Regions from separate parts of the Homo sapiens genome. Here regions 1 and 3 are each linked to region 2. Evidence: fine-mapped expression QTL. A gene starts in region 2. Each other region holds a variant in brackets. All regions are shown on one strand. Distances are from middle to middle.

Region 1 (4,242 bases), 750 kb before region 2:
AAACAAGAGTTCTCAAAGTGTTTCTCAGGCTAGTGAGAGATTATTCCCCCCAAGAGAGCTCAAATAGGACGCTAATGAGTTTATTTGCTAACAGCGGTTTTCTGTACCGGATGTTGATGAAAGTTTAGACTTTGGGCTGTCATTCTTCATCTTTCCTCAGAGGAGTCTGCAGTAGCCCTGCAGTAATGTGTTCGTTTCCTGAGCTTTTAGGAGTAAGTATAAGATCACTGGACCATCCTTAACTGTACTCAAAAGAGCAAGATGTCCTGTCAACTTTCCCATTCTTACAGCGAACCATATTGCAGAGACCAAAGTGCCTGCTGCTGGCCCCGCAAATAGTAAGGTACCCTAGAAACCAGTAGCAGAAACTCTCAGGGGTCTCAAAACTCAAAGATGAAAGGATATGGACTCCAGGGTTCAAGTCCCTTAGAACAGTATTTCTCCACACTAGAATGGTCTAGGGAGGTGAGTGTTTTTTAAAAAAATATTGATGCCTTGGTCCCATCCCAGATCAAGTGAATCAAAATGTCTGAGGGTGGGACCCAGGCATCAACAATTATTTTTAGAAGTAAGTCTAATAAGGCCAGGCATGGTGGCTCAAGCCTATTATCCTAGCATTTTGGGAGGCCGAGATGGGCAGATCACTTGAGGTCAAGAGTTTGAGACCAGCCTGGCAAATATGGTGAAACCCCATCTCTACTAAAAAATACAAAAATTAGCCAGGCATAGTGGCAGGTGCCTGTAATCCCAGCTACTTGGGAGGCTGAGGCAGGAGAATCTCTTGAACCCGGGAGGCAGAGGTTGCAGTGAGCCGAGGTCACACCATTTTCTAGCCTGGGCAACAGAGCAAGACTCTATCTCAAAAAAATAAAACAAACAAACAAACAAAATAACCAAAAAAGTAAATCTAATATACAGTCACATTGTAAATCTCTAACTTAGAAAATTTTCCCCCCACTTAATCAAGGCAAAAATTATAGTTGGAGACAAAGAAGCCACAGCTATAATCATCACAAAACATCATAAGATGCCATGGTTTTGTTTTTGTTTGTTTGTTTGTTTTGAGATGGAATCTCACTCTGTTGCTTAGGCTGGAGTGCAGTGGCGTGATCTCAGCTCACTGCAACCTCCACCCCCTGGGTTCAAGCAATTCTCTGCCTCAGCCTCCCGAGTAGCTGGGACTGCAGGTGCACGCCACCACGCCAGGCTAAGTTTTGTGTTTTTAGTAGAGATGGGGTTTCACCATCTTGGCCAGGCTTGTCTTGAACTCCTGACCTCAGGTGATCCACCCGCCTTGGCCTCTCAAAGTGCGGGGATTACAGGCGTGAACCACTGCGCCCAGCCACCAGACGCCACGGTTTTTATTACAAAATGAAAACTCCTTTTTTTTTTTTTGAGACGACATCTCACTCTTGTCCCCCAGGTTGGAGTGCAATGGCGCAATCTCAGCTCACTTGCAACCTCCGCCTCCTGGATTCAAGCGATTCTCCTGCATCAGCCTCCCAAATAGCTGGGATTACAGGTGCCTACCACCACGCCCAGCTAATTTTTGTATTTTTAGTAGGGATGGGGTTTCACCATGTTGGCCAGACTGATCTCAGACTCCTGACCTCAGGTGATCCGCCTGCCTCGGCCTCCCAAAGTGCTGGGATTACAGGCATGAGCCACCGCTCCCGGCCCAGCAAAATGAAAACTCTTGTGTCAAAGCTAAGCAGCAGTTTTAACCACTGGAATTATGGTCACCCTGAGAATGAGAATTTGCCCTTATGTAAGAGTACAGAACCAAGGGCTAGTATTGGCCAGGTCCAGGTCCATTCTGCCCACGTGCAGTAAATCAATCACTGTAACACAGGTTTTGCAAAAGAGGGAAGATTTATTCACAAAGCCCCAGCGCTAAGACAGGAGAACAGCTCTCAAATCCACCTGACCGAAGATAAAGTTTAGGGATATTTATGCGTTAGGGAAGTGGGATGGTCTAAGGCATGGGGAAAGGTGATTGGCACTGGGGGAAAAAAAGACGTTAACAGGTTTGTTCTGCACAAGTATAGTCAGGGCTCATCGCATTTTATAGAACATACGTACAGAAAATGGTGGTGTTAGCATGATCTGAGGGTGGAGTTTTTGGCCTTCTCACATCAAAAGGCCACCTCTTGAGCACTAGTGCAGGCCCAGTTGAAGCATTGGTGGTTTCCACCAGTTTGAACTAGACAGGAGCTGGCCCAAATTCCTGAGAAACAACCATCTTTTTGCTCCCATTACCATGGTGACCTGCGAACACTGTCTACAAAGTAGTGAAGGTTAAGTTTCAGCATTCAGTGGCAAGGCCTTCAGCTATCTTGGCTTTCAGCTTCATGGAAAAAGGAAAACAGATAACAAAAAGCAAGGGACCAAAAGCAAGAAAGGCAGGCAGACCCGATCAAATTTACTCCTTGGTGTCAGGGCCAAGGGCCACCTTAGGAACCTGTGCACTGCTGACTTGTCCCGGGAAGGACCTGGAGGGCAAAGGGGTTTGGTGT[A/G]CCTCACACAGGAAATGCTCACCAAATACCAACTGGGTGCTTTGAATTTTGAAATAAAAACAATTTCAACTATACAAGGAAATTTCCTAAACTAATCTTTACCTGGGAGATAAATTTAGAATTAGCTCTTCCATGAAGTAGAGAGAAAACAGAACTTGGCAAAATGTTAATGCTTTTATCAAAATCGCTTAAAATGATTATGGATTAAAACTTGACTTTGAGAATTCCTGGCCACTTTGTCACATTTATACTTCTCCTTCCCCCGCCCCAATAAGAGACATATTTGTTTGACATGCTTTATTTATTTTTCTTGTCATTTTCTTGTTGTTGTTGTTGTTGTTGCTGTTTTGTCGACAGGCAGGAATGCAGTGGTTCCATCTTGGCTCACTGCAGCATTCACCTCCCCACCCTCCCCCACACCCTCCTCCTGCTCAAGCAATCCTCCCACCTCAGCCTCCTGAGTAGCTGGGATTATAGGCGCATGCCACCATTCCAACTAATTTTTGTATTTTTTGTAGAGATGGGGTCTCACTGTGTTGCCCAGGCTGGTCTCGAATTCCTAGGCTGCCTGCCTTGGCCTCCCAAAGTGCTGGGATTACAGGTTTGAGCCACCATGCCCGGCCTGGCTGCTTTTACTTTTTCCCTTTTTTCTTTCCTTATTTTCAGCTGCAGGAATGTAGCCAATTCAGAGGCCTTATTCCCCATAATTTGGAACTTTCCTTTGGATTTGATCAAGTCAGATAGAGTTGGTCAAACCCAAAATAAATCTAATATATTAGATTTATAATTTATATTAGATTACTGAGTGCTCTAATGGTAAGAAGAAATTAAGACCAGCTGGTTGTTAATCTTAACTTTAGCCATTAAGGAGAATTTCCAAAACAAAACCCCAATTCAGCTACTTACCTAGGAATGGGGCTCAGGATGAAGACTGCTCTCTGCCATCCTAGAAGCAGAAAAAAAACCTCAAACTCGCCTTACCTGTTCAAAGCAAGTTGAAACTCCAGAAAGGAGTTGCCTGCTCTCCATCATTATGGAAGCAGGAAAAGCTCACTTTCCTTGTTGAAAGTGAGTAAAACTCCAGAAAAGGAGTTGTACAGCAAAATAAACCTTAGATTTCAACCAAATTTTGGGAGATCAGGGATTCTCTGGAGGGGGCAGCTCCCAGGCCTAAGCAAATTGACCTATTAGTTTGAGCAATAAAGATAGCTCCAGCCAGATAGGAGATTTGCCAAAGGTCAAGGGCATCTCCACCTGACTTCCTTCATGGTTGCCAATCTGTGAACCAAAAAGTATCTGAGACAGGCCTCAATCAACTTAGAAAATTTGGCTGGATGCTGTGGCCCATGCCTGTAATCTCAGCACTGTGGAAGGCCAAGGCAGGCAGATCACTTGAGGTCAGGGGTTTAAGACTAGCCTGGCCAACATGGTGAAACCCCGTCTCTACAAAATTATCCAGGTGTGGTGGCGGGTGCCTGCAATCCCAGCTACTCAGGAGGCTGAGGCAGGAGAATCACTTGAACCCAGGAGGTGGAGGGTGCAGTAAGCTGAGATTGCACCACTGCACTCCAGCCTGGGTGACACAGTAAGACCCCACCTGGGGAAAAAAAAAAAAAAGAAATTTTAGAAAATTTATTTTGTCAAGATTAAGAATGCATGCCCAGGGGCCAGGTCTGTGCCTTCTCCAAAGATGATTTTAAGGGCTTCAATATTTAAAGGGGAAAGG
Region 2 (4,242 bases):
CTGATTAAATTCTCGATATTTCCTGTGGCTTTGGATTTACAATCTAAGGTCATTCTATGTCTAAGGTTACTCTACTGTCACCTCTCAATAGCAGTTGTTTATGACTATGTTCATATGTCATATAAACATATACATTTTAATAAAAATGATGATCATATTTTTCATATTATTTTTTATAATTACTTTTTTCACCAATATTTTGTGAACATGTTTTCATGCCATTAATTTTATTTATTACATAAATTGTAGTGGCTGCATGGTATTCCACTATCCACAATTTAACTAATCCCCTATTGTATACCATAACCTTGTTTCCTTTAAAAATGTTCTTGTTTGCTTATTTTCTTCATAATATAAGCATTCTTACACACCAATAACAGACAAACAGAGAGCCAAATCATGAGTGAACTCCCATTCACAATTGCTTCAAGGAGAATAAAATACCTAGGGATCCAACTTACAAGGATGTGAAGGACCTCTTCAAGGGGAGCTACGAACCACTGCTCAACGAAATAAAAGAGGACACAAACAAATGGAAGAACATTCCATGCTCATGGATAGGAAGAATCAATATCATGAAGATGGCCATACTGCCCAAGGTAATTTATAGATTCAATGCCATCCCCATCAAGCTACCAATGACTTTCTTCACAGAATTGGAAAAAACTACTTTGAAGTTCATATGGAACCAAAAAGGGCCCACATCACCAAGACAATCTTAAGCCAAAAGAACAAAACTGGAGGCATCATACTACCTGACTTCAAACTATACTACAAGTCTACAGTAACCAAAACAGCATGGTGCTGGTACCAAAACAGAGATACAGACCAATGGAACAGAACAGAGCCCTCAGAAATAATATCACACATCTACAACCATCTGATCTTTGACAAACCTGACAAAAACAAGAAATGGGGAAACGATTCCCTATTTAATAAATGGTGCTGGGAAAACTGGCTAGTCATATGTAGAAAGCTGAAACTGGATCCCTTCCTTACACCTTAGACAAAAATTAATTCAAGATGGATTAAAGACTTAAATGTTAGACCTAAAACCATAAAAATCCTAGAAGAAAACCTAGGCAATACCATTCAGGATGTAGGCATGGGCAAGGACTTCATGTCTAAAACACCAAAAGCAATGGTAACAAAAGCCAAAATTGACAAATAGGATCTAATTAAACTAAAGAGCTTCTGTACAGCAAAAGAAACTACCATCAGAATGAACAGGCAACCTACAGAATGGGAGAAAATTTTTGCAATCTACTCATCTGACAAAGGGCTAATATCCTGAATCTACAAAGAACTCAAACAAATTTGTAAGAAAAAAAAATCCCATCACAAAGTAGGCGAAGGATATAAACAGACACTTCTCAAAAGAAGACATTTATGCAGCCAACAGACACATGAAAAAATGCTCATCATCACTGGCCATCAGAGAAATGCAAATCAAAACCACAATGAGATACCATCTCACACCAGTTAGAATGGCGATTATTAAAAAGTCAGGAAACAACAGGTGCTGGAGAGGATGTGGAGAAACAGGAACACTTTTACACTGTTGGTGGGACTGTAAAGTAGTTCAACCATTGTGGAAGACAGTGTGGCAATTCCTCAAGGATCTAGAACTAGAAATACCATTTGACCCAGCCATCCCATTACTGGGTATATACCCATAATACATAATACTATTATGAAAAGCCATGTATGTAAATGGTGCATCTCTATTCTTAATTGTTTACTTAAGATTTAGGATTAATTCCTAGAAGTTAAAGTATTTTTGTGGGCATAGTTTTAAGGCTTTCATATGTATTCTTGTATGACCCTCCAAAAACTCTGGAGAATGCATTTTCTACCGTAGTAATACCCCTAACCTGAGAAGCATAAGCTATGTCTGCCAAAACATTGTTAAATTGGTTTTTATCTCTCTGATTATTGGCAAAGTTGATCCTTCCTTCCTTCCTTCCTTCCTTCCTCCCTTCCTTCCTTCCTTCCTTCCTTCCTTCTTTCCTTCCTTCCTTCTTCTTCGTCTTTTTGCAGATTCTCCATTCAACATCTGTGCCAATTATTTTATCGGGGTGTTCATCTTGTTTTTAAAATCAAGTTCTTCTTAACATAGCAATAATTTAAATACCTGTCAATATGTTGCAAATACATTTATCCAAGTAGTTGCTATTATATATATATATATTTTTTCAGTTGAGACAGGATCTCACTATGTTGCCTTGCATGGACTGGAACTCCTTGGCTCAAGAAATCTTCTTGCCTCAGCCTCCCAAATAGCTAGGACTATATGCACATGCTACTACACCTAGTAAGTTTCTTTTTAACCTTATAATATTTTAACATATAAAGTTAATTCATTTTTAATGTATATATTAATAAATTTCCTTAGGATTTTTCCCTTTGTATTTATGCTTTAAAAACTTTTCCTACAATGAAATTACATAAATATCCACCTATTTTTTCTTATAGTTCTAAAATTAAAATTTTTTTTTGTCTGTTTTATTCAACTCTCGTATGGAAAGACCAATACAGGTATCCGTCATTACCACTGACACCTTCTGAACGAAGAGTCCTATTTAGCTTCTTGTGCAGATTTCCATATGCTCTGTCATGTGACTCCACTTATCTACTCTGGCTGCCACTGAATGAGCCAGAGGTGTGCACCTATCCCAAGAGAAACAATCTTCAGGGAACCAATTTCACAAGTCACCAGCTAGGAGGCTATGAGGTGGCCTTGCATGATAGCTCTGTCCAAATGGGAATGACTGGACAAAGAAGTCTCTTTTATAACTTGTCTTGGGATTGTAAACAAAGATATAGCTGGTTAGTAGCAAAAGGATATGACGAGAAAATGCATGCAAAATTCCCACGAGACAGAGAAAACCATTAGTAAGCAGAAGATATGAGAAAGCAGAAGCTATAAAACAGAGAATATAAAGTAGCTCGCTTTCAATAGCACCAAGAGTGTAGAAATATAATGGAAAGGTGCAAGGTCATCTGCTATTGAGGATGAACAATAGAGCAACGTTAGATGTAGAATTACTTTAGATTGCAAAACCAAAGACTTGAGAGATATCAAGAATTCAATCAGATGTCACTTTGATATTTGTAAGAGTTTTTTAGTCCTATGAAATGAAAATAAAAGATAGAAATCCATCAAATTCAGAGTGCTTTATAGTTATATGGAAACACATTTACATGTCTTAAAATCCAAAGATTGAAGTCAATTGGATGGAGGCTCCAGATTCTAAGGTAACTTGAAGATTAACAATAATATGAGCAAATCTAGGGTATGTGAGTTACGTGGCTTTCTCCTTTAAATTTTGGAGCCATTGATACAGCTATAAATAGACCCTTCCCATCAGCGTAACAGACAAGGATCTAGCCCCATCCTCGACTGATATCCTCTGGTTACTGGGAAACTTCAGCAAACTAAGAAGACAATGCCCTCCTCTTAATTATTTGGGATGACATATTTACTTCCTAGTGAGTATGCTGGATATTCTCTTATTTGCTCTTTATTCCTTAAGATTCACTCTCTTTCCCTCTCTACTCTTCTCTGAACCCCCAGGAAGCTGATCTGTAACAAGCAGATCAACCAGGCTCTCTTGTTTTCTGGCTTCCAGAGGTTCAGAGGGTGACAGAGAAGAGAGGGGTGAAGTATTTGTTCCCCTGTCTTTCTACATGTCTGGCTTCAGATTGGCAGTGGCTGTGCTCCCCGACCCAAAGCCACGGCTCCTGTCAGGGGACCACCTGACAGCTCCAGGTTTTACTGCATTCTGATAAATGCCCCTTTAGACCTAGATATGGTATCTGACCTCTTGTTGCTAGCCCTGGGTTTTTTTGCCATTATTGTTAGTTTCCACCACATTTTTGTCAATAATCATTTAGCTAAACTTTTGTCCATTACCGTGTCTGAATGTGTCATCAATGTCCTGCAAGCACCCTAATGATTACATAACTGGTACCAAGAGGGGTCTCAGAAATAAGCTATTAAAATGGGATTTTGGGATCGAGTGTCTCACTTATTTGATGCAAAGATAAATAATCTTGTTTTTTTTTTGTCTGGGACACTGGTAATCCATGGTATGTGGTGTTATCATGATTACTCAAACTATCATCAGTAGTAGTATAGAATGGAGTGCAGGTGGAGGATGAGGGATTAGGAGATAAAGCTGTCTAATTCTCCCGGCATCCTTTATTGAATAACCCAGTTCATTAATTTATATTTAACAT
Region 3 (4,242 bases), 7.5 kb after region 2:
GCATAAAATCAACCAAAAGGTCATCTACACCAAAACCCCATCTGTAGGTCACCAACATCAAAGACCAAAGGTAGATAAAACCACAAAGATGGGGAGAAACCAGAGCAGAAAACCTGAAAATTCTAAAAATCAGAGCACCTCTTCTCCTCCAAAGGATCGCAGGTCCTCACCAGCAGCGGAACAAAGCTGGATAGAGAATGACTTTGACAAGTTGACAGAAGTAGGCATCAGCAGGTCAGTAATAACAAACTTCTTCGAGCTAAAGGAGGATGTTTGAACCCGTGGCAAGGAAGCTAAAAACCTTGAAAAATGATTACACTTATGGCTAACTAGAATAAACAGTGTAGAGAAGACATTAAATGACCTGATGGAGCTGCAAACCATGGCAGGAGAACTTTGTGATGCATGCACAAGCTTCAATAGCTGATTTGATTAAGTGGAAGAAAGGGTATCAATGATGGAGGATCAAATTAATGAAATAAAGTGAGGAGACAAGGTTAGAGAAAAAGGAGTAAAAAGAAACAAACAAAGCCTCCAAGAAACATGGGACTATATGAAAAGGCCAAATCTAGTTTGATTGGTGTACCTGAAAGTGATGGAGAGAATGGAACCAAGTTGGAAAACACTCTTCAAAATATTATCCAGGAGAACTTCCCCAACATAGCAAGGCAGGCCAACATTCAAATTCAGGAAATACAGAGAACACCACAAAGATACTCCTTGAGAAGATCAACCCCAAGACACATACTTGTCAGATTCACTAAGGTTGAAATGAAGGAAAAAGTGTTAAGGGCAGCCAGAGAGAAAGGTCGAGTTACCCACAAAGGGAAGCCCATCAGACTAACAGCAGATCTCTTGGCAGAAATCCTACAAACCATAAGAGAGTGGAGGCCAATATTCAACATTCTTAAAGAAAAGAATTTTCAACCCAGAATCTCATATCCAGCCAAACTAAGCATCATAAGTAAAGGAAAAGTAAAATCCTTTGCAGACAAGCAAATGCTGAGAGATTTTGTCACCACCAGGCCTGCCTTACAAGAGCTTCTGAAGGAAGCACTAAACATGGAAAGAAACAATAGGTCCCAGTCAATGCAAAAACATGCCAAATTGTAAAGACTATTGATGCTATGAAGAAACTGCATCAATTAATGGGCAAAATAACAAGTGAACATCATAATGACAGGTTCAAATTCACACATAATAATATTAACTTTACATGTAAATTGACTACATGCCCCAGTTAAAAGACACAGACTGACAAATTGGATGAAAAGTCAAGACTCATCAGTGCGATGCATTCAGGAGACCCATCTCATGTGCAAAGACGCACATAGGCTCAAAATAAAGGGATGGAGGAAGATCTACCAAGCAAATGGAAAGCAAAGAAAAGCAGGGGTTGCAATCCTAGTCTCTGATAAAACAGACTTTAAACCAACAAATATCAAAAGAGACAAAGAAGGACATTACATAATGATAAAGGGATCAGTTCAACAAGAAGAGCTAACTATCCTAAATATCTATGCACTCAACACAGGAGCACCCAGATTAGTAAAGCAAGTCCTTAGAGACCTACAAAGGCTCTTAGACACACACATAATAATAATGAGAGACTTTAATATTCCACTGTCAATATTAGACAGATCAAAGAGACAGAAGGTTAACAAGGATATCCAGGAATTGAACTCAGCTCTGCACCAAGCAGACCTAATAGACATCTACAGAACTCTCCACCCCAAATCAACAGAATATACATTCTTCTCAACACCACATCACACTTAT[T/A]CTAAAATTGACCACATAGTTGGAAGTAAAGCACTCCTCAGCAAGTGTAAAAGAACAGAAAGAACAACAAACTGTCTCTCAGACCACAGTGCAATCAAATTAGAACTCAGGATTAAGAAACCCACTCAAAACCACACAACTACATGGAAACTGAACAACCTGCTCCTGAATGACTACTGGGTAAATAACAAAATGAAGGCAGAAGTAAAGATATTCTTTGAAACCAATGACAACAAAGACACAAAGTACCAGAATCTCTGGACACATTTAAAGCAGTGTGTAGAGGGAGTTTTATAGCACTAAATGCCTACAAGAGAAAGCAGGAAAGATCTAAAATTGACACCCTTACATCACAATTAAAATAACTGGAAGAAAGAGCAAACAAATTCAAAAGCTAACAGAAGGCAAGAAATAACTAAGATCAGAGCAGAACTGAAAGAGATAGAGACACCAAAAACCCTTCAAAAAATCAATGAATCCAGGAGCTGGTTTTTTGAAAAGATCAACACAATTGATAGACTGCTAGCAAGACTAATAAAGAAGAAAAGAGAGAAGAATCAAATAAACGCAATAATAAATGATAAAGGGGATATCACCACCGATCCCACAGAAATACAATCTACCATGAGAGAGTACTATAAACACCTCTACTCAAATAAACTAGAAAATCTAGAAGAAATGGATAAATTCCTGGACACATACACCCTCCCAAGACTAAACCAGGAAGAGGGTGAATCTCTGAATAGACCAATAACAGGCTCTGAAATTGAGGCAATAATTAATAGCCTGCCACCGAAAAAAGTCCAGGACCAGACAGATTCACAGCCGAATTCTACCAGAGGTACAAAGAGGAGCTGGTACGATTCCTTCTGAAACTATTCCAATCAATAGCAAAAGAGGGAAACCCTTCTAACTCATTTTATGAGGCCAACATCATCCTGATACCAAAGGCTGGTAGAGACACAATAAAAAAAGAGAACTTTAGACCAATATCCCTGATGAACATTGATGTGAGATTCCTCAGTAAAATACTACCAAACCGAATCCAGCAGCACATCAAAAAGCTTATCCACCATGATCAAATCAGGTTCATCCCTAGGATGCAAGGCTGGTTCGACATACACAAATCAATAAAGGTAATCCATAAACAGGACCAAAGACAAAAACCACATGATTATCTCAATAGGTGCAGAAAAGGCCTTTGACAAAATTCAACAGCCCTTCATGCTAAAAACTCTCAATAAGTTAGGTATTCATACAATATATCTCAAAATAATAAGAGCTATTCATGACAAACCCACAGCCAATTTCATACTGATTGGGCAAAATCTGGAAGCATTCCCTTTGAAAACTGGCACAAGACAAAGATGCCTTCTCTCACCACTCCTATTCAGCATAGTGTTGGAAGTTCTGGCCAGGGCAATCAGGCAAGAGAAAGAAATAAAGGATATTCAATTAGGAAATGAGGAAGTCAAATTGTCCCTGTTTGCAGATGACATGATTGTTTATTTAGAAAACCCCATTGTCTCAGCCCCGAATCTCCTTAAGCTGATAAGCAACTTCAGCAAAGTCTCAGGATACAAAATCCATGTGCAAAAATCACAAGCATTGCTATACACCAATAACAGACAAACAGAGAGCCAAATCATGAGTGAACTCCTATTCACAATTGCTACAAAGAGAATAAAATACCTAGGAATCCAACTTACAAGGGATGTCAAGGACCTCTTCAAGGAGATCTGCAAACCACTGCTCAAGGAAATAAAAGGACACAAACAAATGGAAGAATATTCCATGCTCATGGATAGGAAGAATCAGTATCGTGAAAATGGCCATACTGCCCAAGGTAATTTATAGATTCAATGCCATCCCCATCAAGCTACCAATGACTTTCTTCACAGATTTGGAAAAAACTACTTTAAATTTCATATGGAACCAAAAAAGAACCCACATTACCAAGACAATCATAAGGAAAAAGAACAAAACTGGAGGCATAATGCTACCTGACTTCAAACTATACTATAATGCTACAGTAACCAAAACAACATGGTACTGGTACCAAAACAGATATATAGACCAATGGGACAGAACATAGGTCTCAGAAATAATGCCACACATCTACAACCATCTGATCTTTGATGAACCTGACAAAAATAAACAATGAGGAAAGGATTTCCTAGTTAATAAATGGTGCTGGGAAAACTGGCTAGCCATATGTAGAAAGCTGAAATTGGATCCCTTCCTTGCACCTTAGACAAAAATTAATTCAAGATGGATTAAAGACTTACGTGTTAGACCTAAAACCATAACAACTCTAGAAGAAAACCTAGGCAATACCATTCAGGACATAGGCATGGGCAAGGACTTCATGACTAAAACACCAAAAGCAATGGCAACAAAAACCAAAATTGACAAATGGGATCTAATTAAACTAAACAACTTCTGCACGGCAAAAACAAACAA

The links.
Region 1: its variant is fine-mapped to the expression of LINC02562 in prostate (GTEx, PIP above 0.99).
Region 3: its variant is fine-mapped to the expression of LINC02562 in esophagus mucosa (GTEx, PIP 0.93).

Annotation. Positions count from the first base shown.
Region 1 is chr4:75,837,570-75,841,811 of GRCh38, reverse strand. LOC105377284 (a long non-coding RNA gene) reads right to left here. Exons shown (of 5, transcript XR_938891.2): 5 at 3,112-3,462. Among named protein-coding and RNA genes, the nearest start is that of PPEF2, 63 kb to the left of the region's middle. The variant A/G (reference allele first, on the strand shown) is at 2,517.
Region 2 is chr4:75,082,661-75,086,902 of GRCh38, reverse strand. It overlaps LINC02562 (long intergenic non-protein coding RNA 2562), which reads left to right and starts at 2,195. Exons shown (of 2, transcript NR_149051.1): 1 at 2,195-2,314.
Region 3 is chr4:75,075,204-75,079,445 of GRCh38, reverse strand. No RefSeq gene overlaps it. Among named protein-coding and RNA genes, the nearest start is that of LINC02562, 7.4 kb to the left of the region's middle. The variant T/A (reference allele first, on the strand shown) is at 1,780.